4 linked regions of the Homo sapiens genome follow. The protein of the gene in region 4 interacts with the protein of the main gene of each other region in a pairwise test. Each region holds a gene or a part of one and is shown on either strand. Other genes may lie near its edges.

The links.
Region 1: the proteins of SLC7A14 (region 4) and CCDC167 interact in binary tests that used the Homo sapiens proteins (3 or more experiments, as listed by UniProt).
Region 2: the proteins of SLC7A14 (region 4) and AIG1 interact in binary tests that used the Homo sapiens proteins (3 or more experiments, as listed by UniProt).
Region 3: the proteins of SLC7A14 (region 4) and NSG1 interact in binary tests that used the Homo sapiens proteins (3 or more experiments, as listed by UniProt).

What each region holds. Positions count from the first base shown.
Region 1 is NC_000006.12:37,489,881-37,496,907, reverse strand, and holds part of CCDC167 (coiled-coil domain-containing protein 167), read left to right. Parts: intron 1-7,027.
Region 2 is NC_000006.12:143,329,875-143,336,901, reverse strand, and holds part of AIG1 (androgen-induced gene 1 protein), read right to left. Parts: intron 3,621-7,027; coding exon 3,457-3,620; intron 2,825-3,456; coding exon of another isoform or gene 2,807-2,824; exon of another isoform or gene 2,512-2,806; intron 1,852-2,511; coding exon of another isoform or gene 1,811-1,851; exon of another isoform or gene 1,783-1,810; intron 1-1,782. UniProt on the Homo sapiens protein: Hydrolyzes bioactive fatty-acid esters of hydroxy-fatty acids (FAHFAs), but not other major classes of lipids. Show a preference for FAHFAs with branching distal from the carboxylate head group of the lipids.
Region 3 is NC_000004.12:4,390,081-4,397,107, reverse strand, and holds part of NSG1 (neuronal vesicle trafficking-associated protein 1), read right to left. Parts: intron 5,634-7,027; coding exon 5,517-5,633; intron 1-5,516.
Region 4 is NC_000003.12:170,464,076-170,471,102, reverse strand, and holds part of SLC7A14 (solute carrier family 7 member 14), read left to right. Parts: intron 1-3,700; exon of another isoform or gene 3,701-3,725; coding exon 3,726-4,048; 3' UTR 4,049-7,027. UniProt on the Homo sapiens protein: Imports 4-aminobutanoate (GABA) into lysosomes. May act as a GABA sensor that regulates mTORC2-dependent INS signaling and gluconeogenesis. The transport mechanism and substrate selectivity remain to be elucidated.

The sequences.
Region 1 (7,027 bases), on a different chromosome or scaffold from region 4:
TGGGCCCAAACTGTCCACTTTCCATTGGCAAGAACTAAAACCCCACCTGACTGCAAGGGATCAGGGAAATGCGTTCACCAGTCAGGAGGCCACATAGCCAGCTACTGTTTGCTTACTATGGAGGAAGAGACCAGTGTGTTTTCACAGACAGCCTGTAGTCTCACTACAGATGGCACCTCACCTCACAGTGTGGTTGTGAGGATTAAATGAGACATTGCGTTAAGTGCCCAGCACGTGCCTGGCACCGGATTGGTAATCAATACATGGTAGCTCCAGCCTTTGTATTTCTTTTGCATCCTTCCACCATGGCTAAGTCAAACTCGTTCTTGGGCATTCGTTCACTCATCTATAACATGAAGGACTTGAATTTCACCAGGGGTTACAAACTCCTTGACTATGGCCCAAATACAGATCACAGATGTCTTCTGTTTGGCTGACAGACTTTTAAGTTTTTATTTTATTTTATTTTATTTTTAGACAGGGTCTTGCTCTGTTGCCCAGGCTGTAGTGCAGCGGCATGATCTCAGCTCACTGCAGCCTCCAGCCTCCCGGGTTCAAGCAATTCTCGTGCCTTAGCCTCCCGAGAAGCTGAGACTACAGGCGTGCACCACCATGCCCAGCTAAGTTTTGTATTTTTAGTAGAGACGGGGTTTCACCATGTTGGCCAGCTGGTCTTGAACTCCTGACCTCAAGTGATCCGCCCGCCTCGGCCTCCCAAAGTGCTGGGATTACAGGCGTGAGCCACCACACTCGGCCGGATTTTTACGTTTTTAAACTTGGTGGGGCATGTATTCTCCAAGTGCCTTATACTGGGGCAGATTCCATTGTTTTACCCTCTCCATACCACGGTAGATGTTTATATTTGCTATCTTGGTCCCTAAGTTTACTTTTTGCTTGGATATTCGAAGATTTGACATCTGTAACCGTGTGCCTTGGAAAAAGCCTGACATCTGGCTGGCTGTCTCCCCACCTTGCTTCTCAGTTGCCCCCAGCGGGTCTGAGTATTGAATGTGCACTGATGCTCAGTAGCAGTAGATATTGTCCTCTTATTAAAAGTTGTGTGCTCAGAGCCAATGAAGTGGTGATTTAATCAAAAATGTTTGTTAATCTGACGAGTGCAATAAAACCCCCACAAGTGAGTGATCTCAGCACCTGCAAACAGTCTCCACTTGTAATGAAGCAATTACCAAGCAGGCAGCACTCACCCTTAGGGCTGGCTTGGGCCAGCTGTATAAGCAGCCACCTCTTAGGACAACCAGGGCACCCTCTAGCCTCCCCCTCAAAGTGGTTCCTTTTGAGGTCTTTTTATCCAATTCATTTGCCACCATATGAGATCTCAGAGTTGGAAAAAACTGTGAGTTTTAGCTTCTGAGATTTCATTCTTAATAAGAAAAGAAAATTATAGTTCAAATGAGAAATCACCCACCCAGTACTGATTTTAATGTTGTGTGGGAGGAAGGAAAGGTTGAATTTCAGTCTAAACTGATAGGAGAATTTTGACTGATGTAAAACCTGTTTGTGTTTTCGGATCTCTGATGGTAATGAGCTGTTCCTTTGTCATTGCACTTTTCTTTTGTAGCTGGACTGTTCAAACTGGTGTCTTTAGATGTTTCAGTGACCAGTTGGTCTTGAGTTAACAGATGTGTGGTGTCTTAGCCGGTATCCTAAAGTGGATAACTTGGTTGGATCTGACCCCTAGTACAGAAAGTTTATCAGTTTGGAAAGCTTTTGGCTACAAGTTATAGAAAACTGACCTCAATGATTTAAGCAAATGGGAGTAGACTTTTCCCCTTATAGAAATTTGTAGGGGCCAGGTGCAGTGGCTCACGCCTGTAATCCCAGTATTTTGGGAGGCTGAGGCAGGTGCATCATTTGAGGTCAGGAGTTCGAGACCAGCCTGACCAACATGGTGAAACACCATCTCTACTAAAAATACAAAAATTAGCCAGGAGTGGTGGTACACGCCTGTAATCCCAGCTACTCGGGAGGCTGAGGCAGGAGAATTGCTTGAACCCAGGAGGTGGAGGTTGCAGTGAGCCAAGATCGTGCCACTGCACTCCAGTCTGGGCAACAGAGACCCCGTCTCAAAAAAAAAAAAAAAATTTGTAGGTAGGTGGCTACTGGCATTGGTTCAAAAGCTTAGCTATGTCAGAGTTGGTATTTCTGCATTCTCTTCACTGTTTCCTCATGGTCACAATATAGCTGCCACAGCTCCAGTCTAATATTCAACTTTAACTCAGGAAGGAGGAGGAAGGAACAACACTGTCCCTTTTATCAACAAAGCATAAGCTTCCCCAGGAGTCTCCTAGCTGACTTCTGGAACGTCTCATTGGCCAGAACTGGGTCATGAGCAAGCCTAGCTGCAGTGAGGTTGGGAGAGCATCTGCTGAGCTTTTCCACCTTCTGGAGTAGAGGTGGGCAAAGGAGCAGGGGTGGGGAGTCGGTGTTGTGTTGGCCAGTTGACAGTATCTGCTGTAAGGAATAAATGCTAATGGGAGTCATTGAAAATTCACTGGAATCCTTACCAGAAAAAGAGGGCAGGATCGGCTGGGTGCGGTGGCTCACGCCTGTAATCCCAACACTTTGGGAGGCCCAGGCGGGCGGATCACCTGAGGTCACGAGTTCGAGACCAGCCTGACCAACGTGGAGAAACCCCATCTACTAAAAATACAAAATTAGCCAGGCATGGGGGTACATGCCTGTAATCCCAGCTACTCGGGAGGCTGAGGCAGGAGAATCGCTTGAACCTGGGAGGTGGAGGTTGCGGTGAGCCGAGATGGTGCCATCGCACTCTAGCCTGGGCAACAAGAGGGAAACTTCGTCTCAAAAAAAAAAAAAAAAAAAAAAAAAAGGCAGGATCACTGACCATGAGAAGTGGTAGGCTGAGGGGAGAGAATGGCCTAGGCCAGGAAGAGCACCGGAAGGCTTGACGCTTGTGGTTATTTGTATGGTGCCAGCCACTGCAGTAGCCTCCGTGGGGCAGGGCAGGCAGAAGCACCAAGTGTGGCTGAAGACGGTCTCCGCTCTGGAGCAGGCTGTGCACAGGGCTCAGGGGAACCTCCCACTTTCCTGAGACAAGGGCTAGGAGCAGGTGAGTGGACTGTCAATAAATATTTGCTGAACTGGCTCGATTGGCAGGAGGAGGCATTGAACCTTCCACCCTGACGTCTGGGCCCAGTTGAGTGGAGGTCACAGTAGAGCAGGCGGTTAGACGCCACCTTGCTGGGACCCTGAACCCCAAGCCAGGGGCTGGGAGAAAGGCTCGCAGCACGCAGAGGACTGTTCAGGGGCCGCTGACCATTAAATGAGCCTCACCTGCTGCCAGGCGAGAGCGACAGGTCGCCATTGGGCAGGTGATTTCTCGCGGCAGCCTACATCTGGCTCTGCGCCACTTGACGGGGGTCAGGAGACTAAAACCTCATTACCTAGCGCGGCTGGATGGCGGCGTGTGTGGAGTGGCTGTCTGCCAGCATCTTAATTAATGAATTCATAAGGCTCGGGGTGGATGCCAGTTCTTGAAAAGTGCTTTGAGCCTTTCAGCGATGAACAAGCTTTTGCTAGTTTATCAAAAAATAGATATCGGGGGGAAAGAAGACAAAACAAACCCCACACCACCTTCCGGCCCAGGGACAGCTGGCATCTTCGGGCGCGGACTGGCTCGGGCGCTAACTTGCAAGGCTGGCTCGGCCTCCGTCTCCTCGCGGGAAGGCGTCGGGACTCGCGTGGGCTGCAGCGGTTCCCTCGCCTTTCTGACCTGGCATGGGGGTGTGTCCAGGCGAGCGACAAGCCCCTAGGCTCTCCCTGCTCTTCCTGAAAATTGTTCATTGATTAAAAACTGGGAAGGTCTGCCGTCTTCAGCTGCACAACCTGCGAGAGAAATCCTTACAGGGCCTGTTGATGTGGGGAGCCATGGGCGGAGGTTTTTCTGCCCCCACAGAGCTCTGTGAGCCGCCTCCACAGAAAAACATCCCTTAAACGATGTGGGGATAATGGGCCCCTTGGGGTTTGAGGCTTGTCACCTGGAAAATTGAGGCCTAAGAACCCCGTGTGACTTGCTGTGGAGCCTGAAGGCTCCAAATGGAAAGCCCCTGCACTCTTGCCAGAGACCATCTGGGCAGGCACTTGGCTGCTTTACCCATTATAATAAATGTCCTGGGGTCTCCTGACGTGTGAAAATGAGTGAATTTTCAAAAATCCAGTTCCCAGGCTGCTGGGGCTGGAGATGAAACAGCTGACACCACTCTCCAGGCTGTGAATTAGCAAGTGAAAGGGAAGGCTTCGGTACTGCTGGGGAAAGAAGGGTTTATCAGGCCCAAGTAGCCCACCTTTTTCCGTCTCCAAACTGGATCTGTTTTGTGTGAATTTTGGAGGATGCTTTGACAGTCGAGGTGATCTGGGGCAAAATGCCTGGGATGTTTGTGAAGCTCATTGAGTTGGCCCAGTGTAAGGGCAGACGCTGGGCTCCTGTCTCCTCTGTCTCAACAAACAAATTTCAATGAGGGCTTTCCCTCACAGAGAGTATCTGTTATGTAGACAGAAACTGAGCAGAGCCTTGTACAAGATTATTCCGAGTAGAGAATCTGTTGAAGCCAGATCAGCAAGCTTAGATGGGCTTCAGCTGGGATGTGGAATGACTGTTCTGCAGAACTCTTGTCATGAATGTTTTCATGAGGGATTTTGGAGAAAGAGCTTGAAGTGGTGGAAAGAGCATAAGCCCTGAAGCAGAAAAACCCAGATTCAGGCTTCAATTCTGCCCCTTCCCAGTTACACGACCTTGGGCAAGGTGCTGAAAACCTCTGCAAGGGAGCTTGCACCTCTGTAAGATGGAGATGGGCCCTTCCTTGCAGGGCGGTTGCAGACACAGGAAGCTGCCCACAACCTGCCCAGCTCCAGGGGTAAGGTGTGGAGGTTGTGCCCAGGAGCTAGGAGTCCCTCAGAGCTGATGAGCGCTGCCTTCTCCATGTGGCATGGTGGTTAAGGGCACAGACGTGGCTGCCCAGCTCCCGGACTTAATGCCTGTGTGACCCTGGACAGTTACCTATGTCTGAGTCCCCTCATCTGTCAAATGTGGATGCTGATAATACTGCCCACCTCACAGGGTTCTTGCGAGCATTATGTGAGTTAATCGGTGTAAAGCATGTAGGTCAGTGCCTGGCACACAGCACAGACTACAGAAGTGTTGCTGCTGCTGTCACTGTTGTGGTTCCATTTTGCTGGGACTTTTGGTTTCCAGAGGCTGCTTACACTCATGCTGTCATGCAGACACTGGAGACTCTGTGACTTGGCTCGGCTCAGCTACCCTGGCACCACGCTCTTTATTGGAAGGTCTGAGTGCCCAGTAAGGACCTGTCCAGCCAGGTGCAGTGTATGCCCCATTACCACTGCCTGACCCTGTAGCAAACCTGTCACTCGCTGGCCAGAAGCTCCCAAGAGTAAAGCCGGAGAGACAGCAAACAGCTTCCTAAATCAGAAAGCAGAGTGGCCTGTGTAGCCCAGCACCAGGCCCCGGGGGTGCCTTCTGCCCTTTCCCAGAAACAGGTCTGGCCCTAGACAGTGGTTCATTAGGGAGTGGGCAGAGAGCCACCTCCCCGGCTGTCTAGATGCTCTGTGGGAACACCATTCAGTAGGAGAATAGAGTGAACGGTAGCCTGTGGCTCGAACTGTCTCGTGCTTGTTGGCAGAAAAGCTGCATATGAGGCCCCCAACAGCAGCTAGCCGTGGAGCTGGCACCCCATCAGCTGACCTGGCCAGGATGCTGGGGCAGTTATCTGTGCATGAGCTGGCACGAAATTCCCTGCCCCCAGTGAGGCCTCCGTGGGGCTCTGATTCTGAGAGGGCCTACACTCCTGAAAAGATGCCTCGCGGGGATTTCACACGAATTTTACAGTTTCTCTTAACACAGTGGTTTTATGGCATATAGGACCCCAGGGAGACTTCCTTAAAGCTCCCAGAATAAGGTGATATTCCCCAAGTCAGGCTGCAGAGGGGAGTTTGCTTATCTGCCTGGGGGCTGCTGAACTCCAGGCCCGGGTGCTTGGAGCTGCATCTGTCTGATGGGCTCTCAGGGAGGCTGCAGGAAGAGTCCCTGCCCCTGCCGCTGGGCATGAAGAAGCCCTTTCTGCTCTTGGCACCTGCCAGCAGGATTGACGGCCCTACTTGGCTAGGGCCTTGTCCCCAGCACCCCTCAGGCCTACAACACAGCCTCTGCAGCCTTGACTGCTGGGCTGACTTTAGATCTTCTCATTCTTCTGCACAGAACACCCCCTCTGTGGAGGGCCTTTGGTCTCATGGGTCTCCTCGCTGAGCTCACTCCTTCACCCAGCAGGCCTCAATTCCCTGCCCCAGGCTCTGATACTGAGAAGCAGCAGTTCTCAGTAATTTAGGCAGCATCACTACGGGGCTTTTCTGTTAAAAGAACGGACTTGTTGGGTCCCACTCCCTAAGGCCTCCCCTGGGGCCTTTCCCACCTGTCTACCTGAGGGATGCTCCTTCTCCATTCCCTGCCTCATATGCCTCTTTTTCCTTCCTCCTCCCCTCTTCCTTTGTGCTCTGTGTCTCCCCTGCCTAGGCAGACTCCCCAGCCATCCCCCCAGGCAGTTTTTAGCCACTGCTGGTCTCTGGGTAAAGAACAGACTTTCCCCAGGACACCCTTCACACTCTCCAACCTGTTCCTTGGGCCCCTGGACCGCTCACACAGGGCTTCACACAGCGCCTCCCCAGGGCTCAGGCTGGGCCAGATGCCAGGAAGCAGTGTGCTGGCTGACAGTGGGTTCATACCATCGCCTCTCTTACTTCCTGGGGTCCCCAAAGCCCCTGCAGATCGCAGCCCTGTGCCCCCTGCTGACTCATCTCAGTGACTGGGACACAGTGCTTTTTCCCCATGTAAAAATTGACCTTGGTTTTCTGAGTGTAAATATAATGCACGGGTGGTTCTTAATGTTATTGTACAGCAGGGGGCACCTGCTCTCTGCCCCCACACTGTGCCGTCTAGGTCTCTGCCTTGGCTGTCTCTACTTTGCCGGTCACA
Region 2 (7,027 bases), on a different chromosome or scaffold from region 4:
GAATGGGAATGTATATTCTATGCCTGTCCCACCATTCTGTTTTGGAAGCAGATAACTTTTTGTCTGGTTTCCCAGGTTCACACACAGCTAGAGAACAATTTTGCTTCAGGATGACTCATACCCTGAGTGTCACGCATACCCAATTTTATGATATTTAAGATGAGATTTTGGACTTGAGAGTTGATGTCTGAAAGACGTTTGGGGTTGTTGGGATGGAATATTTTCATTGGGTGAAGGACATGTATTCTGGTGGGGAGAGAGTGAAGTATTATGAGCTGAACTCTGTCCCCCACTTCCAAATTCATATGCTGAAATCCTAACCCCCAGGATGTGGTTTTAAAGTCAGAATGTGACTTTACTTGGAGATAAGTATTTACAAATGAGGTCATCAGGGTGGGCCCTAATCAAATACAACTGGTATTCTTATACAAAGGGGAAATTTGGAGACTGGACTGAACATCAGTTAGAAGGCACTGGCTCTGCCATCACCTGTTCTGGAGGGTCACTTAAGATTTTGGGGCCTCAGTTACTTTTGGTGAAAGGAAAGGGTCGGTTTCGATGATTTCCAATCTCTCTTTCAGCAGTAAGATTCTGCAATAATGTGATTTTTATCTTGAAGTTGTAGCTAACATAAGTTACCCAAGTAGACAGAGTTGAGCTATTAAAAACCATTATGGAAAAAGGAGGGTGGCTCCAATGCAATCTTCCTTCTTCTTGGGGGATTGTATAGTAACTGATGTGAAATACTCAGGATTGTAGTACTGTACTCCCATGTCCTCAATTCATCCTAACACACTGCTTTTAGTGAGTAGTTTTTGACTCAACAGCTAACAGAATCAGGCAGCTAATGTGACTGAGTAAAGTGGCCAGGTGAGAACGAGGGAAAGTTAGTCATCTAAAGTGGATAACTGATACTCAATTCTTTTTTCTTTTCTTTCTGTTTTTTTTTTTTTTTTCTGAGAGTTTCACTCTGTGGCTCAGGATGGAGTGTGGTGGCACGATCTTGGCTCACTGCAACCTCTGCCTCCAGGTTGAAGCGATTCTCGTGCCTTAGCCTCCCAAGTAGCTGAGATTACAGGCATGTACGCCCGGCTCATTTTTGTATGTTTAGTAGAGATGGAGTTTTGCAATGTTGGCCAGACTGGTCTTGAACTCCTGGGCTCAAGTGATCTGCCCACCTTAGCCTCCCAAAGTTCTGAGATTACAGGTGTAAGCCACCGTGCCCAGCCAAGGGATAACTGATACTCTATTCTAAACCATTGTCACCAGAATAGAACAGTGGGCTCTGTGTTCCAGATCTTAAAATATTTCCTAAGAAGCTGAAAATCTGGCCTTCATGTGAAATCTCCTATTTTTTTTTTTTTTTTTTTTGAGATGGAGTCTTGTTCTGTTGCCAGGCTGGGGTGCAGTGGCATGATCTCAGCTCACTGCAACCTCTGCCTCCTGGGTTCAAGCAGTTCTCCTGCCTCAGCCTCCCGAGTACCTGGGACTACAGGCACACGCCACCATGCCTGGCTAATTTTTGTATTTTTAGTAGAGATGGGATTTCACCATGTTGGCCAGGATGGTCTCCATCTCTTGACCTCGTGATCCACCTGCCTCAGTCTCCCAAAGTGCCGGGATTACAGGCATGAGCCACTGCGCCCAGCCAAAATCACCCAATTTTAAAATACTGATTCAAAAACAAAAATTCCACGATGTAGGCCTAACAGAACTTGATAGGTAGAAGTTGGGGGAGGCCAGCAGTTTGTGACCCCTCTTGTAAATGAGGATGATACTTACTTGGCACAAAACATCTGTCTTTGTGGAACTAACTAGATGGTCCTAGGTACATAAACTTAATTTTCATATCTAAAATGAATTTTTAAAAAAAGTTAGTCAATCTTATGTTACTTAAAAGAATGGCATAAATTAAACAAATCATTCAAAAAACCTTAATTTCATTATTCATTTTTAACTCCTCATTCAAAGCTGCTAAAAAGCAGTATTCTATTAATGTAGAGTGGATATTTCTCTCTAGTGGTTTTCAGGTCATCCTCTCATAGAAGTAGTAGAACTGTGGCCAAATGACTGTCAAATCAATCAAGTCAAGTGTAAGCAGGTACTTAAGTACTTCCTGAATAACATATATTGGACACATTCGTTTAAGTTTAAATACAGTTTTTCTTCCAAGAAGCTGAGAAAGGTTTATATTTTGTTCTCAAAATATTTTTGTCAAGTAACTAAATACTTCTGTAAATTAATGGAGAAAGATCACTATTTCCATTGAACAGGTGGAACATTATTAAAAGATTAGTGTCTTGTTCCCCAAGCTGTGGCCTGAACAGAATTAAAAATGTTGATACTTTTTCTAATAGAACATTGATTAAAATCAAAAGCTGATGAGAAAAGAAACCCTCAAATTCCTCTGCGCCATTTAACATTGGCTAATACCCTGACACATACAATCTTAGAGGATCCACACACACAAAAGTCTGATTCAGTAACCATGCACAGTAACCATGCACTCACTGTGCGTTATTTGTCTGATTCCATTGAGCTCCTGGCAGGGTGTCTGGCACAAAGCAGGGTGCTCAATGTCTGTGTCACAGAGTCCATTTACTGGGGATGTCTAGAATGCTGTGATTGTGTCAGAGGAAAGAGCCAGGGCTTCCTAAAATCTCCAAACCATCTTGCCTTTGGATGTATTTTCATGCAGGACTCAATCACTACATGTCTGTGCTGGCGCTTTTTCCACCTTTCAATTTTTATGTTATTGTACATACACTTTGGACAGGTTTTGCACAGCTTGGATAAGATTACGTGCCTTGCCAAGATGGAGGCTCTGCCATAAATGGAAACAAAAGAGAAATCAAATCACAGGTTAAAAGAGTTTTTCCAGCCACGAAATATTATCTTTTACTGCTTGTAGCTCTTTGCCACTTTCAGACTTTCCGTGACAGCCACTGGTGAGTCAAGGTGGCCGGAGCATCACACACTGCTTAGATAGAGCTCTAGCAGAATGGTAGTAAGACCTCTCCCAGGTGACTGCACCCACATAGAAAGTGGAGATCTGGGTGACTTTAAAGGAGATTGGTTACATTTAATAATGTATCTATTTAATTTGAGGTCCCTTTAGCTAACTAAGGCAGCATTGTGTTGTTAATGAGGACAAATTTCCCTAATATATATTTTTTGCTAACACTACATTTTTCCCTATAAAATTTTATAGACATGCCTCTTTCCTCTTTAGATTTGGAGGTTTTACTAGCTAACAAGACCAAGTGACTAGTAAAACTTTCAGGTAACTGTCAGCAGCTCTTAAATTCATATTGTAGTTTTAAAAATGGAGCTCTTTATAGGAGATCCTGTGTGAAGGCTAAAAGAAGAGGCTACAGTGGAATTTTCCCTCAGTCTCTGCATAGACTGTTGCCGGCAGTAATTCTCTTGTTTTATGTTCCCTCAGACAATACTTACTTTTCTGTGTATCCCAGATATAGTTGTTCAGAACTTCTCCCAGCAGGTACAGGAAGTTCATTAAGATGGTTGTAGACCCAAAGAAGATGATTCTGGCTCCTGGGCCAATGTGTTCCAGGAAAGGGTACACCCACATGCCAGTTACATGATGCACCCAGCACACCCTGCAAAAGAATCGGAAAGGAGACAAGGACAGGAGTCACTCTTATGGCAGGCATCAAAGCTGCTATGATGCAAATATACACTCCCTCACTCTCCCCATGCTTCAGCATTTGCCAGTCTCAAGTTCGCTTCTGATACTCAGGAGCTACTGGAAACTTGGTTGCTGTTTATTTTCATTTACTTTTTATTCTGAAATAATTTTAGACTCACAGAAGAAGCACAACACACTCAGCTTCCCCTCATGTTAACATCTTGTATAATCCTGGGACAATTGACTAAAATTAAAAAATTAACATTGATATGACAGTACTAAATTATAGGCTTTATTCAGAATTTCCCAGTATTCCTGTGAATGTCCTTTCTCTGTTCCAGGATCCAATCCAGGACCCCATGTGGTCTTCAGTCTTCACATCTCCGCAGTCTCATACTCTGGCAGTTTCTCAGTCTCTACTTGTCTTTGATGATATTTGAAGGGTATTTGAAATGGCTGACTTTATTAACACTGTTAAACAATCTGGTCATGTATTTGAAATGGCTGACTTTATTAACACTGTTCAACAATCTTTTAAATCTCTTCTTTACAGAATGAGACAATATGGCATTGGGCAACCACAGGAGAATAAGACCTAGGTGAGTCTGTGCCAGATACCTTGCCATATGGCCTTCCAACTAGACACCAACACTCATGCCATATGCTGACACAACCATGCATACCCTAGCAGGTACCAGCTTCCCACTCCTCTGATCTTCAGATGTGACATTGATTTCATTTTTTTTCCTATTTTACATTCTTACTTAATCATTCTCTTTGTGTTCCAGAAATATTTTTGACTCAGTGGGAATAGTAACATCATGAATTGCCACTGCTTTCAAAAGTTTAGTTAGAATATCGGCTCCATTGGCTTGGTCCTGACATGACTGCTTACAGCTGTTTTCCAAACATTCTTGAGTTCATTCCTTTATAAACTGTTGGCAATTGTGAAGACTAAATAAAATACAGATAACTCTATTGCATTGGGAATAAAGATGACTTTTCATACTTATGTGTTCTGAGGTCATTTTCCTTATCCTTGGCTTCACTCTAAGTGGTTTATCTACATATAAATATTACTGACAGGGTGCAGTGGCTCACATCTGTAATCTCAGCACTTTCGGAGGCTGAGGAGGGTGGGTCACCTGAGGTCAGGAGTTCAAGACCAGCCTGGCCAACATGGCGAAACCCCATCTCTATTAAAAATACAAAAATTAGCTGGGCGTGGTGGTGCGCGCCTGTAATCCCAGCTACTCGGGAGGCTGAGGCACAAGCATCACTTGACCCTGGGAGGCAGAGGTTGCAGTGAGCTGAGATCACACCACTGCACTCCAGCCTGGGTGACAAAGTGAGACTTGGTCTCAAAATAATAATAATAATAATAATAATAATAATAATAATAATAAACATTACCTACACATGTACCTCATTTTTGGCAGGAAACCTGGGGATCTATACCTGAGAACCTGCGTTATCAATGAGGGTGAGATCCCCCCTCTTCTTGCAGGCGAAAATTCATTCTGGGGTTGGTGGTAAAACAATTTTGCACTTTTTATGTAGAAAGCACAGATACACACACACACACATATACACACACACATATATACACACACACAGATGTACATATATGTATATAGAAACACATCAGTAGGTGAACAAACAATCAAATGTGGCATATGCATGCAATGGAATATTACTCAGCCATAAAGAGGAGTAAAATGTTGATACATGCTACAACATGGATGGACCTTGAAAACATTATGCTAAGCAAAATAAGCCAGACACAGGTCACATATTGTATATGATTCCACTTATATGAGGTACCTAGAATAGGCAATTTCACAGAGACAGAAAGCATGGTATCTATCAGTTACCAGGGACTCGGGGGAGTGGAGAATAGGGAGTTATTGTTTAACGGGAACAGAGTTTATGTGGGGGGATGATGAGAAAATTTTGGGTATAGATACTGGTGATGGTTACACAATGTTGTAAATACATTTAAGGACATTAAATAGTATACTTGCAAATAGCTAAAATGACAAATATTATGTTATGTATATTTTAGCACAATAAAAAATGTTCCTGTGGTGGAAATTAGGAAAAAAAAAACAGGTCTACAAAGGTTCCTTGGTAGAGGGAAGTAGTAATGAAAGAAAGATTGAGGAACAATCTTACAGCAAAGAGGCATTCTCTAGGTCTGTCCAGGTCAGTCTCAATCACTGTCCAAACAAAAATATTTGTATCAAAAAAAGAGGCCATGTTAGTCCAAAGATTCTGTTAGAAAAGCTGAAGCAGTTGTGAGAATCCGCAGAAATTAAATGGTTAGAACTACCCTGTGGGATTCTGAGATATCATATTGTTTGTCCATAAATTAGAAGCAGTTTCATCATTCTGACATTGTCTTAAATAATGTAAGGAAGGTGCTGTGTACCCATCAAATGGTTTATTAATTTCCATGGAGAGAATATGCAATATTCCCCCAATTTAACACCATTAAGCTGTAATTGATGTTGCAAATCAACTTATAAAATTTTAATCAGTCTGTGCTACAGGGTGTTTGCACTGGAGCAGTCGGATGGATCTGGATTAAATGTGAGTCAGGCCATGCCACTATTCTGCTCAAAACTTGCTTCCTCTCCCACTCAGAGTACAAGCCAGAGTCCCTAGATGGTTCTTCAAGGCCCTACCCCGCACTTTTCTGATTTAATCTCCTGTTATTCTCCCCATCGTTCCCCGCCACTCCAGCCCATCAACTCCTTGGTGTTCCTCGAACACTCTAAGCTCTCTCTGCCTCCAGGCTTTTGTATTATTCCCCTGCCCAGAACAATACTCCTCACCACCCCCACAGCATCCCCTTGGGCTCCCTTGTGTCCTTCGGGTTTTCACTCAAATGTCACCTTTCCAGTGATGTCTTCCCTGGCCACTGTATCTAAAAATTGCAACCTCTACCCTCAAACTCTCTATTCTTTCATCCTTTATTTTTTCTCCCAGCCAAATAATATACTCTACTTATTTTTATTTGTCTGTTTATTGTCTATTCAATGAGCAAAGGAATTTTGTCCAATTATGTTCATTGCTGTATTCTGTGGTTCTTGGAGCAGTATCTGGCAGAGTATGCACTCAATAACTATTTGTTGAATTAATAATCTAATGAAGGAATATAAACAGCAACATCTGTTTATTGAGCCATTACTATATGGCAGGCACTTCGCCAATAACTTATGAATTTTTTTTAATCTCAAAAAAAACCTCCAAAATCTTTATGCTTTTTGTCACTATATTTAATTTAAGTCAGGAGTAGGGAAACCTTTTCTGTAAAGAACCAGATAGTAAATATTCCCATATGGTCTCGATCACACCTACTCAACTCCGCCATTG
Region 3 (7,027 bases), on a different chromosome or scaffold from region 4:
TTTACAGCACTAAATATTTTAGGTAACCCACACAAAAGTGAATACATACACACACACACACACACACAGATGACTGAACCCACGTGGTATCTGATTCAGCCGAAGCCCCCACACTACAGCTAGCCTGGGGAAGGTGGGCTCTGCAACCACAGCCCCAGGATCCTACAAGATGCTCGCATAGCTAAAGGTGAGGGGGCGTCCACACACACCTTCAGGGTCTCCAATACCACCCCCACGGGAAGAACCCCCACCCCCACTGCTGAATGCCAAGGAAACGGCATCACTCTTCATAAATATTTAAGAAATGCATCTTGAAACACACCAGGGGCTTACTGGAGAATGTGGAAACAGATGCGCACGCAGGAAGCTCAAGGTCATTAGGGAACACACCAGGGGCTTACTGGAGAATGTGGAAACAGATGGGCACGCAGGAAGCTCAAGGTCATTAGGGATGTGAAGAAAAGACACAAACCACCCACAGAGTCCTCTGCGACAGGATGCAGAGGGACGTCCCCACCAGAGTCTGGACTGCCAACCAGGGGGACCACGCAGACTAACGAGGGCTCTCCTGCCAAGTCACTCCCCAGCCCTGTGCTGGCGGTGAAAGGTGTTCCCGTGCAAAGCCGACCTTCAGATCTCTCAAGGCCCCAGGGTGACATGGTACCCGGTGAGGGTCAAGGCTGGACCACCCAAACCTGACCTCACATCACAGGCAAACAGGGTGTGGAGACCTCTCCAGCGTCAGCAACCGGTCATCACCGGAATCACGAAGCACGAAGGGCTGGAGCGGGCCCTGAGGGAGCCTTCCTGTCACCTGTCTGATGACGGCCCCTAATGACAGTCTCCAGACCGGAAGGAGAACTGCAAGCAGCGGCCCCAGCAGCCCCGACCCGCCACTCTGCAGGCATCAGTGGGGAAGTGCAATTTCAAAAATGTTTAGGTTTGGTTGAGAAACATCTCAGCCAGTGTTTATTCTCACTGTAAATATGCCTCCAGTTAATTAAGCGACTGCTTTCCTTGACAAGAACCTCTTTGGAAGCCCAAGCAGCTGGCCGCCGCTGGGGGAGTCCTCCTGCCATCCCGTGTGGCGGAGTCTCTCAGAACCTTCTCCCAGTCAGCAGTTACCTAGCAACCAGCCTAGTAACCTCACAGCCAAGAGATTAATCCCCAAGTGACAATCAGAAAGCTGCATGCAAAAAGACACTCCGTTTCAAGGATGCCATCCAAACGCCTATAAAGATGAGGTGCTTCTGAGCTACACAAATTGGAGAGAGGAGGGGACAAACGATTTACCTGTCACTTCAAGATCGGAAAGGCGAGATTCCATTCCTGCAATTCATGCATGGAGATGAAAGAGCTAAGATGATGGCTGGGCCAGGGAGCTGCACAGAAGCTGTCCAGTCACTAGTGGGACGAGGAAGATGCTCTGTCCCAACCACAGCTTCGACTGGGCCCTGGCAGGGGGGTACACAAGCCAGGGAGGGTGAATCTCTATTGCGGACCCTCCATCATGCCCGTGTCTCCAGCATAGCCTGCTCCCCATATGCTCCCGTTTCAGAAAGAGAGACCCGCCCAGCCCTCAACCAGCTGCAGCTTCACACACGCCTCATTGTGTGCACGCGTTCAGGGATGCCAGAAATCTAACTGGGTAATAAAAAGCTGGGAGAACATTCCAGAAAGGTGGGCACCCTTAGCATTCCCAAAAAGCACCAGCCCTCCTCATCCTTCCCAGCTTCTGTGCTGGAATGCACCCCCATCGGAAAGGCTCGAAAACTCAGGACACATTAGGATCACCTGGAAAGCATTTGTCAAAACGCATCTCCCTGCGGTTCAGGGTCCAAGTTAAAATCAAACTTCAGGTGATGCTGACTCAGGTGGCTCCAGAAACACCTGGGGAAGCAGCACTTTGGAGGCTGCCTCTCACATCCACCCCACAGCAAGTGGGCAGGGAGCTAGGTAAATCTCCTTCCCAGTTGAGAAGGGGCTCGGAGCAGGCACAGAGAAGAGATGCCCTTAGAATGCAAGTTGTTCAGCTGCGAAAGTCCAGCCTGCAGGCTTCCTGGGCAAGCTAGTGGGCTGAAGTATGCCACAGCAACAGGCTTCTAGAGCCGGCTGCCCAGCTCCTACTCTGCCTCTGCCACTCACTGACTGTGTGGTCTTGAGCAGGTCACCTGTCTGACTTGGTGAGAGCTGACAGGCATCACCTGTTAGAGGCTTACGCGTAAGCATGGCCCCGAGAGAGGCTTCAATCCAATGAGCTGCCAGCTGAACTTACTCAACAAGCAAGGACCCACGGGCAGACCCAGGAAATCTCGCCAAGTACCCCATTCATGGGAGGCCAGCAGCACAATTAGTCATCCATTTACTTATCAAGCTGTTACTGTGTGTGCAAGAAGCGCCAGAGAGATGATATCAAGGAGCTCTTACCATGGCTGGCATAGAGCGGCTGATGAGTAAGTTCCGTCTGCACAAAGAGTCCCTAAGCATTCATTCTTGGCTGACATTCTTGGCTCAGGGGGTCTCCATGGCCTTGTTCCCCTCCTCGGGTCACCAGTTCAGGTCGAGGGGGCCTATGCTTGGAAGGGCCACACCAATGGACCTTGCCAGGACACCCAGTCACAGGTTTCACACCCAAAGAGAAGACAGCCCAACCCAGACCCTCAAAAGAGAGCACCTGGGGGAAGGGAGCGTGGAAACCAGGACTCAGAAAGACACAAGAGAAAAAGAAGCTGTACACTGGGGAGGCTTCCGGGGTACCTGTGCCTGCCATGTCTCTGAAGGCCTTGGGGATGGGGAAGGAGGGCGCCGCACATTCTGTGTGGCTCAAGGCAGCAGAGCAAGGGTTTTGAATCAACAAAGGAAAAGGATTTGAAGAAGTGGAATGGCTCAACAGCGATGGCGCCTGGGGTGAGTGCTCCCACACAAACCCACTTCTCCAAGAAACCAAGGACCTCTGGTGCCACAGCCAAGAGCAGGCTGCCAAGGCTCTCTGCCTCAGTTTCCCCTCTATGTAAAATGGAGCTATAAGGGCGCCTACCTCCTGAGGTGTTTATGAAGATTAAATGAGACAATATGAGCATTAGGAGTGTGAAGCAGAGTCTAGCTCATGGATCACTCCGTCACTGTTAGATGCCATTGCAGCCTGGCTACAAAAGGCACTGGAAACAGGGCGGTGAGGTCTGTTGCAAATGAGAGTGACCCAGGAGGCTTCCTGGCAGAGGTGTGATCTGCACCTGCCCTGGGAGGAGATGGAAGGGATGGGGTCTGGGAAGCAGCAGGCGTCCCATGGGAGTGGGGAGGGATGTGGTGCAAGGTATGTTGGGAAGGCCTTGGCTTTGAAGCTAGAGAGTCACAGAGGGAGCACCCCAGCCACCCTGGGACCACCTGGGACTCAACAGCCTTACGTGTAAAGGGGCCGATGCCACCCCTTCAGGGCAGTTGTGAATCATAAAGGAGGAAAAGAAAACTAAGCAGAGGAACACACCCAGCAGACTTAGTCCAGTATAGTCATGTACTGAGCACCTACTGCATACATCGCCTTCTCAGACAGCCACAGGAGGTAGAGGCAGGGAGATGAGGCAGGGCTTCTGCTGCCAGCAGCCAGTCTATTGGGATGAGCATAATCACCCATGGTCTTCTGAGCCTTCAGGTTCTGGGCAACAGGGGCCAGGTAACCACAGAGTCCCAGCCAAGGCTGCCAAGGGCCCTGGTGGCAAATATGCATCACCCATTCCTTAGGCAAGAGACCTGGGGACCTGCTTCAGGTGGTCATGTGGGAAAAGTGCAAATGAAGAACACCAGAGGTCGGGGACAGAGGCTGGCACATCATAGACACTCAACAGATGAAGGAATAGCTGTTCAAGTGCCGCACTGCGCCCTGCTCTGTGGGGACCTAAAACGCCGGGGCTGGGAAAGCAAAGGGCAAGTGGGGCCTGAGAAACCCAGACACACTCAGACATCACACAGCATTTAGCCATCAGGACAGAGGACACCATGACCTTGAAATCAAGGCCACTCCTGCCTCAACCAGGGACAGCAGCCAAACCCAGGGTGCAAATGGGGCAGGACAGGTGAGTGGCAGCAGATAAGGCACGCGCTAATCCCACTGGCCAGCGCAGAAGACAGGTATTGACCTCGGATCAGTATGTCTTGGTCCTGGCCAAGAACCTCAAAAACGTACGATGGGCCGAGCCAGGAGCCACCAAAAGAGCCTCTCGGCACACACGACATCCTTACATACCAGCAGGGACAGACACAGACTGCTCTGTGCCTCGACTTCCCCATCTGTAACACTGGTAATACAAATAGTACCTACTATTAGTAGGGAGCAGGCAGAGGGCTGCTGGGAGGATTTGCTGAGCTGACACAAGTAATTGCCCCACAGCAACACTCATGGGACCCGCTGGACCAGGCAGGCCCTGACAGGCAGTGTGTGGCAACGGGAAGAAGGAGGGACTGAAAGTCAGATTACGCCCTGGCTTCCCCAGTCACTCTGTGGTTTTGGCTTCATCTGTTAACCAGGGATGGCTCCCAGTCCCACCTTCTGTGATCCACAAGGTTGTCACAGAGATCCAATATGATGCCATACCCACAGGGGCTCTGGAAACTGCAGCGGGTGGGGGTGGGAGTCCCTGTGCCCCCAGCACAAGCAAACTGCTCACACTGCCAAGTGGAGGGTGACCAGAGAGCCAGACAGGGCCACTCTGCAAGGCCTGGGGCCCACTGATGTCTCTCAATTCACCTCCTTGAATCTGGATGAGGCTACCGCTTTACTCTCTCTCTCTCATGTTTCCCAAAGAATGAGTTTCCTGATCAATATCCCAACTTGTTCTTCAACCAACGTGGCCTCTGAAGGCAGCCAGGCTGGCAAGAAGGCTCCTCCCACCGAGACAGGCTGGAACCCTCCCGCTCTCAGCAGCACCCCTTCATCCCATTGGGATGGGGGGAAGGATGGAGGATACACACAGGCCCAAAGCCAGACCCCCTGCAGATCAGATCCTGGCTCTGCTGTGTAGAGCTGTGACCACTCTGTGCCTCAACCTTTCCATCTGCAAAATGGGTTATACCGATAGTACTGGTGTGCCAGGAGGGTTGCTCAGATGAGCTCACTAGGTAAAGGGCTGGGACCCCTTTCTGGCATGTGATCAGTGCTGTGCGTTATCTTTTTGTTATTGCCTGCTTCCTTCCTGGAACTGTTAAGTAAATATTGTAATGTTTGGTAAGTGATTTTTCATATGTTTATAATCTTTGCCTAAAAGACAGTTTGTGGGTGGGTTTCCCCTGTTATAAAAATAAGTAATATGTGATCATTTTGGAAGAGGAAAAGAAAAAAGAAATGTACAAAAAGCACAAGGACAACATCTTGGCAGGCAGTCACAAGCTACTGGGTGTGCACAGCTGGGATGAGCCCAGACAAACGGCGTCAAACCCTGGCCCTCCCTGCAGGGCATCTATGCAGCTCAGCAGACCCCTTCTGGGGGCAAAAGCAGCATCTCACCCAGCACAGGACCACTCACCTTAAACCTCTCGGTGACACCCTCCGTGATGCTGACGGTGAACTCAGCAATTTGGGGAGGACGTGCTTTCCCTTTCTTGCGGTCAGGTTCATACTCGGTCTTAGTTTTCACGACCACCTTATCCAGGAAACAGAGAAACAAAAGTCAGATGCATTCAGACATATCTGCCCAAAGAGGGTGGGTCTGGGAACTCCCATATTCAAAGTCACCATTTGCCAGGAAGAAATTCACAAGAACGAGAACAGCCACTACTTTTTGGAAATCTCCTCTGTGGCAGGACTTTCAGAGAAATGACCCATTCATAATCCTGATAGCAGTCCCAGGAGGGAAATATTATAACCGAGGGGCACAGAAGTTAAGCTCATTGGCCAAGGTCATGCGGTTTATAGGCGGCAGGGCGGGGATGCAGCCTGGCAGCTGACTCCTAACCCAGTGCTCCTTCCACCCACCAGAGCCAAAGCCTGGCTTGGCCCAGGAAGCTGGGAGGCTGCACCTGCCTTTTCACTGGCCTTGCTGTGCCACCATGGGCACAAGAAGAGGAGGTCTGAGGGTACTGTCCACAGCCCTCCAGGACTGGCTGGAGAAGCTGGCCACCAGCTTGTCTGGAAACAGATCCAGGATCAACCTCTTTGTCTCCACCCCCACATCCTCCTCTCCCCCTGCCCCTGCCACAGCCCCCAAAGGGTCTCCCTGCTCTCATTCCCCTCCACCCCCTACTGTGAAGCAGAACGATGTTTGTCCAACCTGGAAACCAGCCCTTGCATCTGCCCTACACCCCAGCAGCTTCAGATGGACCCAAGAAGCCTCCCAGCCCTGGACACTCACAGCCCTGGCCTCAGCGGCGCTGCCTTCATCACTCACCACACCCGTTGCCAGGGACTGTTTACTTCTCTGTCCCACTGGACTGGGAGGTGTTCAAGAGCAGGGTCAAGGTGTTATAGGTCTCTAATCCCCAAACCCCGCTCCCCAAGCCAGGTTCCAGGAGAGGCTGTTGCACTAGAGACAGCCAGCCACCTCCAAGCTCTTTCTCCCCCGAGGGACGAGGCCCCTTCATTGGGCAGTCCGTCACCTGCTCTCCACGATGGTGGGGACCAGGACAGAACAAAGAGACCCCAGCAACTGGGGATGGTCAGCCCCAGGCGGGCAGCCAGAGGGCCTCTCATCCGGTGCTACGACCCCCAAAGCCAGCCTTGGGGAGAAAGAACAGCGGAGCCCATTCCAGGGTCACTGAAAAATGATCCCAAGAGCCATAAACCTTGTAACCACACTCTTGGCCTCTGACCCCAACTCCTTTTCCACCCAGTGCTCCTGCGGTGGAGAGGGAGGGGTGCCTGGCATGGGTTGGCCTGGGCACCCACCCCTGTGAGGCACTCATTGCTTGAGGCAGTGGTTGGGTGTCACCCTGCCATCCTCAAACCCCGACTGGACCCAACTAGCCATGTGACCTTGAGCACGCAGGCCTAGACTGGCCAATGAATGGGAAATAAGGCTACTGCTGAGGATGAGGAAAC
Region 4 (7,027 bases):
ACACACACACACCCCTTCCCAGACAGGTTAAAGGGAGTCTAAACAAAACAAGATACTGTTTGTGTAACATTTTGAGCTCTTTGGGACAAAGGTGCAACATCAACCATCCATCATTATCCTAACCCAGCACACAGAAATGCTTTGTGAAGTTTAGTTTAGATGATTCAGGATTCCCAGAACCCCTACAGATTTTTCAGAAACTACCTCATGCTTCATTCTCTAAGCCAACTAAAAAAAGGAGCAGAAACAAAACACCCTGCTTCCACACAGGAGGCGTGGAGCAGCTCTGTTTACTCCTCCGACACAAAGCCCTTGTTTATGTGGGACAGATGGTAATACGTTTCTCTTCTCTTCTCTCTCTCTCCCTCCCTCCCTCCCTTCATCTGTTCCTCTCTGTTTCTTTGTCCCCCTCCATTTTTCTTTTCTCCAATCCTTCTCAGTTTCACACCACTTTTCCTGAATTGACTCAAGGGCCAGCAAGAAAGATAGACACACAGAATGCCAAGCCCTAGGGGAACGGCTTTGCATCTACTATTTACTCTACCAGGCTGCATGCACACGGTCGTTTCTTGTTTCACAGTACTCACATTTGAAATGCATTTTTGAAGACAGAGTGATACACCTTTGAAACTCCAGGGGGTTCAGGGCAAACATGAAAAGACCCATAAATATTTATGTGGCAAGTTTCCATGGATTGTCTTCACAAAGTAAAAAGTAACCACAGTCAATATGTGAGAGCGCGCAGACACAGACACACACACATACACACACACACACACACACACACACACACATGTTCCTTCCAGGCCTGGCCACTCCCAAAGAACACATGTAAACCTCTTATCACATGTTTACTGCAGTGGGCATAGTCTGTAAACCAGCCTGGGGGAGGGGAGAGGAGGTGTGAAGGACTAGACACGCAAGAGACTTCTCTCCCTCCATGTATAAAGCTGGTTCCTCTCCTTCTCAGACCCAGGCAAGTCACTTATTCTTTCCCAGCCTCTGTTTCTTCTTCTGTAAAATGAAGGTTTTAGAATGCATAGGTGATCTATAGCATCTTTTCCAGCTCTAAATATCTATGACTCAAGGTTTTTAGAGAATTCCCATAATATGAATCTATCTGACACCCAAAATACCTTGTGGGGGCAGGGACAGGTCTGTTGGAATCGACAAACCAGTGATGAGTGATGTCAAACCAGTGACTGAACAATGACCTTTGTGGTGGCAGAGGAGAGACGTTTGGGGCAAAGGGAAAAGAAAAAGATGGTATTAAGTTCAGTAGGGAAATGAGTCGTCTATAAGCAAAGTCAGAGAAGGGCATCAGAAAGGAAAGAATTGGCATAATAGGTACCAAGCAGGAGTAGGAGGCAATATTTGGCATCTGCCTGGGTGTCTAGAAGAAAAGATGGCAAAAAAGCAAAGCAGTGCAAAAGGAGGTGTGCACAGGTCCTGCCTGGTCGCCTGAAATCCATTCTCAGATGCCAAACATGCTTCAGACAGAGGCATTCTCCAAGAACCAGCACACTGGCACTCTTAGAAGAGGCCTTAATGTGATGCCCTGTTCTACACAAGGATAATAACCATCCCCCATAGCCACCCCCCACCTACAGAAAAGAAAGAGTAAATACCCTGCTTTTAAAAGATGAATCATTATTTGAGCACTAATAGCTACATCTGCAAATAATTAACTCTAGGATTTATTACCAATTAGGACTATAAATCTGTGCTTACTTTGGCTCCTGGAAAGTTGATTTCACTGGGGAGTGTGGGAGGGAGGGGGGACAAAGTCATTTGAGACAAGGAGGGAGAAATCCAAGCTTAAAAAGGCACACTTCAAATTCAAAAGAGAGCAAGATTTCTCAAGCACCACAGCAGCAAAGCAGGCTTGACTTGCGGTTCTAAGCAAACCAGCCCAGCAGAAGCCTGCAGGGTTAGCAAAGTCAAAGAGACTGGTGCTACTCAGAGGAGGATGTTAGGGCCCGGGAAGGAGGTTGCATACTGTATGGACCCCAGTGCCTAGGCCATAGTGTGGGCTGAGTGGGCAGTGGAACACTGTGCCCATCAGGCACAGTTCATTATCTCAGGGACACTCTGACCATTGGAATCACCTGTGGAGTTTTAAAAACATACCTATGCTTGGGTTATACTGCAGACTAATTAAATCAGAATCTCCAGGATGGGGCTAGGGTATCAGAGTGGTTCAAAAAACACCCCCAGGTGACTTTCAAGTGCAGCCAGGGTTGAGAACCACCACTTACCTCATTTCATCCTCAAGCACTCCCATGTTAAGAGGGTTGCTATAGCTCTCATCGTTTTACAGAGAATGCTGAGGAACAGAGAGGCTAAGTAATGGGACCAGGGTTACACAGCTAACAGTGATGAAGGCAGGATTTGAACACAGAGCCCACAGTCTTACTTATCATGTTCTATGGACTCCAAGGTTATGGTTCCCAGACTTCCAGGCCCTGAACCTTCACAGTCTATTCAAGATAGAAAATGGGGACTCAGGCCAGGACTGATGGCTCATGCCTGTAATCCCAACACATTGGGAAGTGGAAGCAGGCGGATCACTTGAGTCCAAGAATTTGAGACCAGCCTGGGCAACATGGTGAAACTCCATCTCTCAAAAATACAAAAATTAGCTGGGCGTGGTGGCACATGCCTGTGGTCCCAACTACTCGAGAGGCCAAGGCAGGAGAATCGCTTGAGCCCATGAGGCAGAGACTGCAGTGAGCCGAGATCATGCCACTGCACTCCAGCCTGGACAACAGAGTGAGACCCTGTCTCAAAAAAAAAAAGAAAAGAAAAAGAAAATGGGTACTCATAAATGACTTTTATGCATGTTTTTTAAATCATAGAAATGAAACATTAGCATATATGAATGCTACATATTAACGAGGGGGGCAAGTTTCTTTCCTTTGATTGGGATGACATCAACACAGAGGTTGCACTGGACATTTCACGCTTATCAGGAGTTCTCACCCATTCATTCAACAAACATTAAGTGCCAATTTTCTGCAGAGTCTACGACCCTGTGCAGATAATCACACAACAGATGTTCTAAGGGACATAATAGTAGCATGCACTAGACACTCTGAGAGCACACAGAAGAAAGCAGGCAGCTTGGAGTGGCCATGATATATCACGCCTTTAGTGAGTGTAAAATGTCAAGGTAAATCACAGGATAATATATGCATGCTGCTAAGAGGTGAAACATGAGATAGAGTCCCTAACTGGAGGCAGAGAATAATCAAATCTTATAAGAACGTTGGGAATAAACTGTTGCTGATCCATAAATAGTTCACCCAGGGTAGAAAATGCAAATTCCTGGCTGGCAGCTATATGAGTGTAATGAGCCCGACGTCAGCATGGGAGGTGGGGACTGAGGTAACCTAGAGACCCTGTATCCTGTCTAAAGAGGCAGCCAGTTCTCAACACCAGCCAAAAATCACCATGTAGAAATGTGGATGCAGTGTTGTCAGACCTTTTGACTTTTCTAGGAAAATCTGTAAATATGGGTTACTTAACGCAAGATCTCCCAATTTTTAAAAGGCATCTAATTCAAGTATTTTCAAAACACCACATAAAGCAAAGAAAATACATCCCCGCCCCCACCGCCCCCCACCCCGCCAGCTTTGATTTCATCACTGAAGGTGATCTCTCTGCTAGTCCCAGGATCCCAAAGCAATTGCTTATTCACCTGTACCTTTCCCCTCGCCCCACAGGTCTGCTCATTTATTTTGGATATGGCATCTGGAACAGCACCCTGGAAATCAGCGCTCGAGAAGAGGCCCTGCACCAAAGCACGTACCAACGCTACGACGTGGATGACCCCTTCTCAGTGGAGGAGGGTTTCTCCTACGCCACAGAGGGCGAGAGCCAGGAGGACTGGGGCGGGCCCACTGAAGACAAAGGCTTCTATTACCAACAGATGTCAGATGCGAAGGCAAACGGCCGGACAAGTAGCAAAGCGAAGAGCAAAAGCAAACACAAACAGAACTCAGAGGCCCTGATTGCAAATGATGAGTTAGATTACTCTCCAGAGTAGGAGAAACACACAAGTGGGTAGAAATGGTGATGACTGATTTTCAGTAACTTAACCTGTGGGCTAGAAGGTGAAAACTTTTTTGGCTCTCATTTCACAAATCCAGCCTTCCCCAAATTCAATCCCTAGTCATAGCCTGTCATTTGCTACTTTTGCTCTTCAGGATAGTTCTGTTGAAGGGCTTAACCTGGGTCCCCTAACTGGTCGCCTTGTTAAATAAAATAAATAAATAAACAAGAGGCTATATGAAATTCCATCTTAGGTGCAACCACCAGAGCTGATGGTACCAAATGTTTCCTAGGCCTTTGCTTTGCTGGTTGAAGCCCAAGCAGGGGCTCTGGGCAGAAGGCAGAATTTCAGTCACCTGAGACATGGGGACAAAGCTCTGTTCTTGGCATGTCAGGCTGAGTGCTGCTCCCCGAGGTCAGGGTGGGTAGATGGGCATTGGCACTTCCTGAGCAAGCATCATTTTATCCTGCAATCTCACCCAAAATTAATTCATGGAAAAGACACATGCTTCTTTTTATTCACCAACATTCTCACAGCTTCCAAACTATAATTTTAGGATCCAGCAAAGTTCAGGGACTCTGGACCATTTTCCCAATGGTTTCAGATTCACCATAAAGCAGTCAGGCAGACCCAGTGATATGGTAAGAAGCACCATCAAAGCTCTATGTAAATGCCCAGAAGAAAATTAAATAACCATATCTTGCGGTAAAAGCCAGAAGGGCATTGGCAGAAATTAACTCTCTGTCATGGCCTCTCTTATATCAGACTGCAGCTCCTGGTGATATGATGAAAGCGGGCAAAGGTGGAGCATGATTTCATGGCACTGATATGCCTTGAAAAAGTAGGTTGTTTGTTTTATAATCAGATAAAAATTTTTACAAGGAGAAGTGAGCCAGCCACTGAGATCACATTGCAAATTCTCTTTCATATTTCTAAAATTATAAATTCTAAAGTTTTTGAGATAGGCAACCACTTGATTGGTGTGTGCTACTCTGAAAACAAAATAGGCTGAAGTATAGCGACTTAGGTAGTTGCATTCCATGAGATCACATTTCACTTCTGAACCTTATTCCTTGGGGCTAGCTCACTTTCAGAGGTGTATTTTTTTTTCCTGTTATTTCCCAGAGTAGTTTCACTGAAGCCCAGAGAAATATCTACCTGGTAAGATGTAAATTTGGGCCATAAAAGGGGCTATTAAAAGAATTTTCTCAGAAATAGAATAGATGAGAGAATTTGCAAAGGAAAAAAACACACATGGGCTACAATATAAATTCTACTCTTGGGTTACAAGAATTCCTGTGGCTGCACTGAGATACGTACAAATGTATGTGAAGGCACAATTTGAATCAAGCTATCATAGAATTAACCAAGCTATTAAAATTAATCAAGCTATTAATAAAATCTCTGTGAGGATTTCCTGAAAGAGGGACAAAAGAAGAAATTCCTTGTCCTTTCTCTCCTGGATGTATCAGTATGCCAAACGTTTTCCAGAACATATTCGCTAGCACTCAAGTCTGTTCTTTCTGAAAGGCTGAGGCTCATGCCATCTTGGCATGCTTTAGGATTATGGCAAGGAGGTAAAAGTCCATTTTTTCATTCAACTAACACTGGTTGAGAATAGACCCAATGCTAAGTGACAGGAATGAATAGAAGCATGGCACTTGCCCTTGGGGGCTACAGTCCATGGATGAGCAGCACTGGAGCCTGGTAAATGCAGATAAAACAACAAACTTGACAAGTCTCCAGGCTGATGCACTGGGTTTTAACATACATATAAAGATGAATTGAAACTAGTTTTTAAAAAATATGCTTTAAATAAATTACATATCGTAATCATAGCCAATGTATACCATTAAACTAAAATAACTGCAATTTTCTAGATATTTTTTATTCTTCTGTAGTCATTGTTTAGAACTCTGGTTTCCTGAGGTCATTTTGTCATTTTAATATCATGCTTGACAATGCTATGTTTTCTCTTCCCTAGAGTTAACCATAAAGATACAGTGCCTACTCTGTGAAATACAGCATTAGGAATTAATTATAAACTAATTATCAGTCATCTTTTGAAAACAAAGTTTTGAATTGGCTATAGGACTCAACAAATCTGCCTGGTGTAAATAGAATCTGTTAAGCTTGATACATATCTAGATAGATGAGGAGGGGTTGTATTCATTAAGCATGAGAATAGAGAAATAGGAGTGCAAAATGGCAAAATCTTAACGTGGGTGAAAGAGCTTCCTTTTACTAGTGAGGTTTAAGTATTAAAGTAACAATAGCCTGGTGGCAGATGAATGCAATTTCTATAGGATGGGAATGGAAAATGTATGCTTTGGTTAACACCATTGCTGTTGACTTCATGCAGATTCTATTAAGCACTCTCATTTCAGGAGCCATTTTTCCCACATAGTATATTAGTATATTTTAAGCTTAGCTCCCTTTATTTTTCTAAAGTTGATAAATCACCTCCCTAGCAACCTTAGTTTTAAAAAAAAAATCACTAAGATAGAAAAAGTATTTTCAGGTACATAGACATGTTTGTCCTCAGGTTTACCTGCTTCTGTGAACAGTCCCAGATTTTACAATGCAGTTTTCAAATACCATCAATCACTACAATGACAATATTACTATTTTCTTAACAGGTTTCTAAACGATGTATGTGTGGGATCACATTAAAAGTAAGATCACCTTATAATTATCTTAGAAACTTTGCCCCTTGAAGGGAGTCCAAGGAAGACCTACATTTTATTGAATTCTGAATAGCAAAAGCTCTCCGAGTGAGATTTCATTGTGTGGATTTGTGGTTTGGAGCCAATTACTTGATTTTCTTCAGATTTTATTCTACTTATTTATTGGTACTCTGCTTCATTTCAAAAGGATTTGAGGCAGCTACTAAAATATATATAATACAAAACAAAAATTAAGTGAGGAACTCAGAGCAAACAAAAATAGAAACAGAAAGGATAAGACAAAACT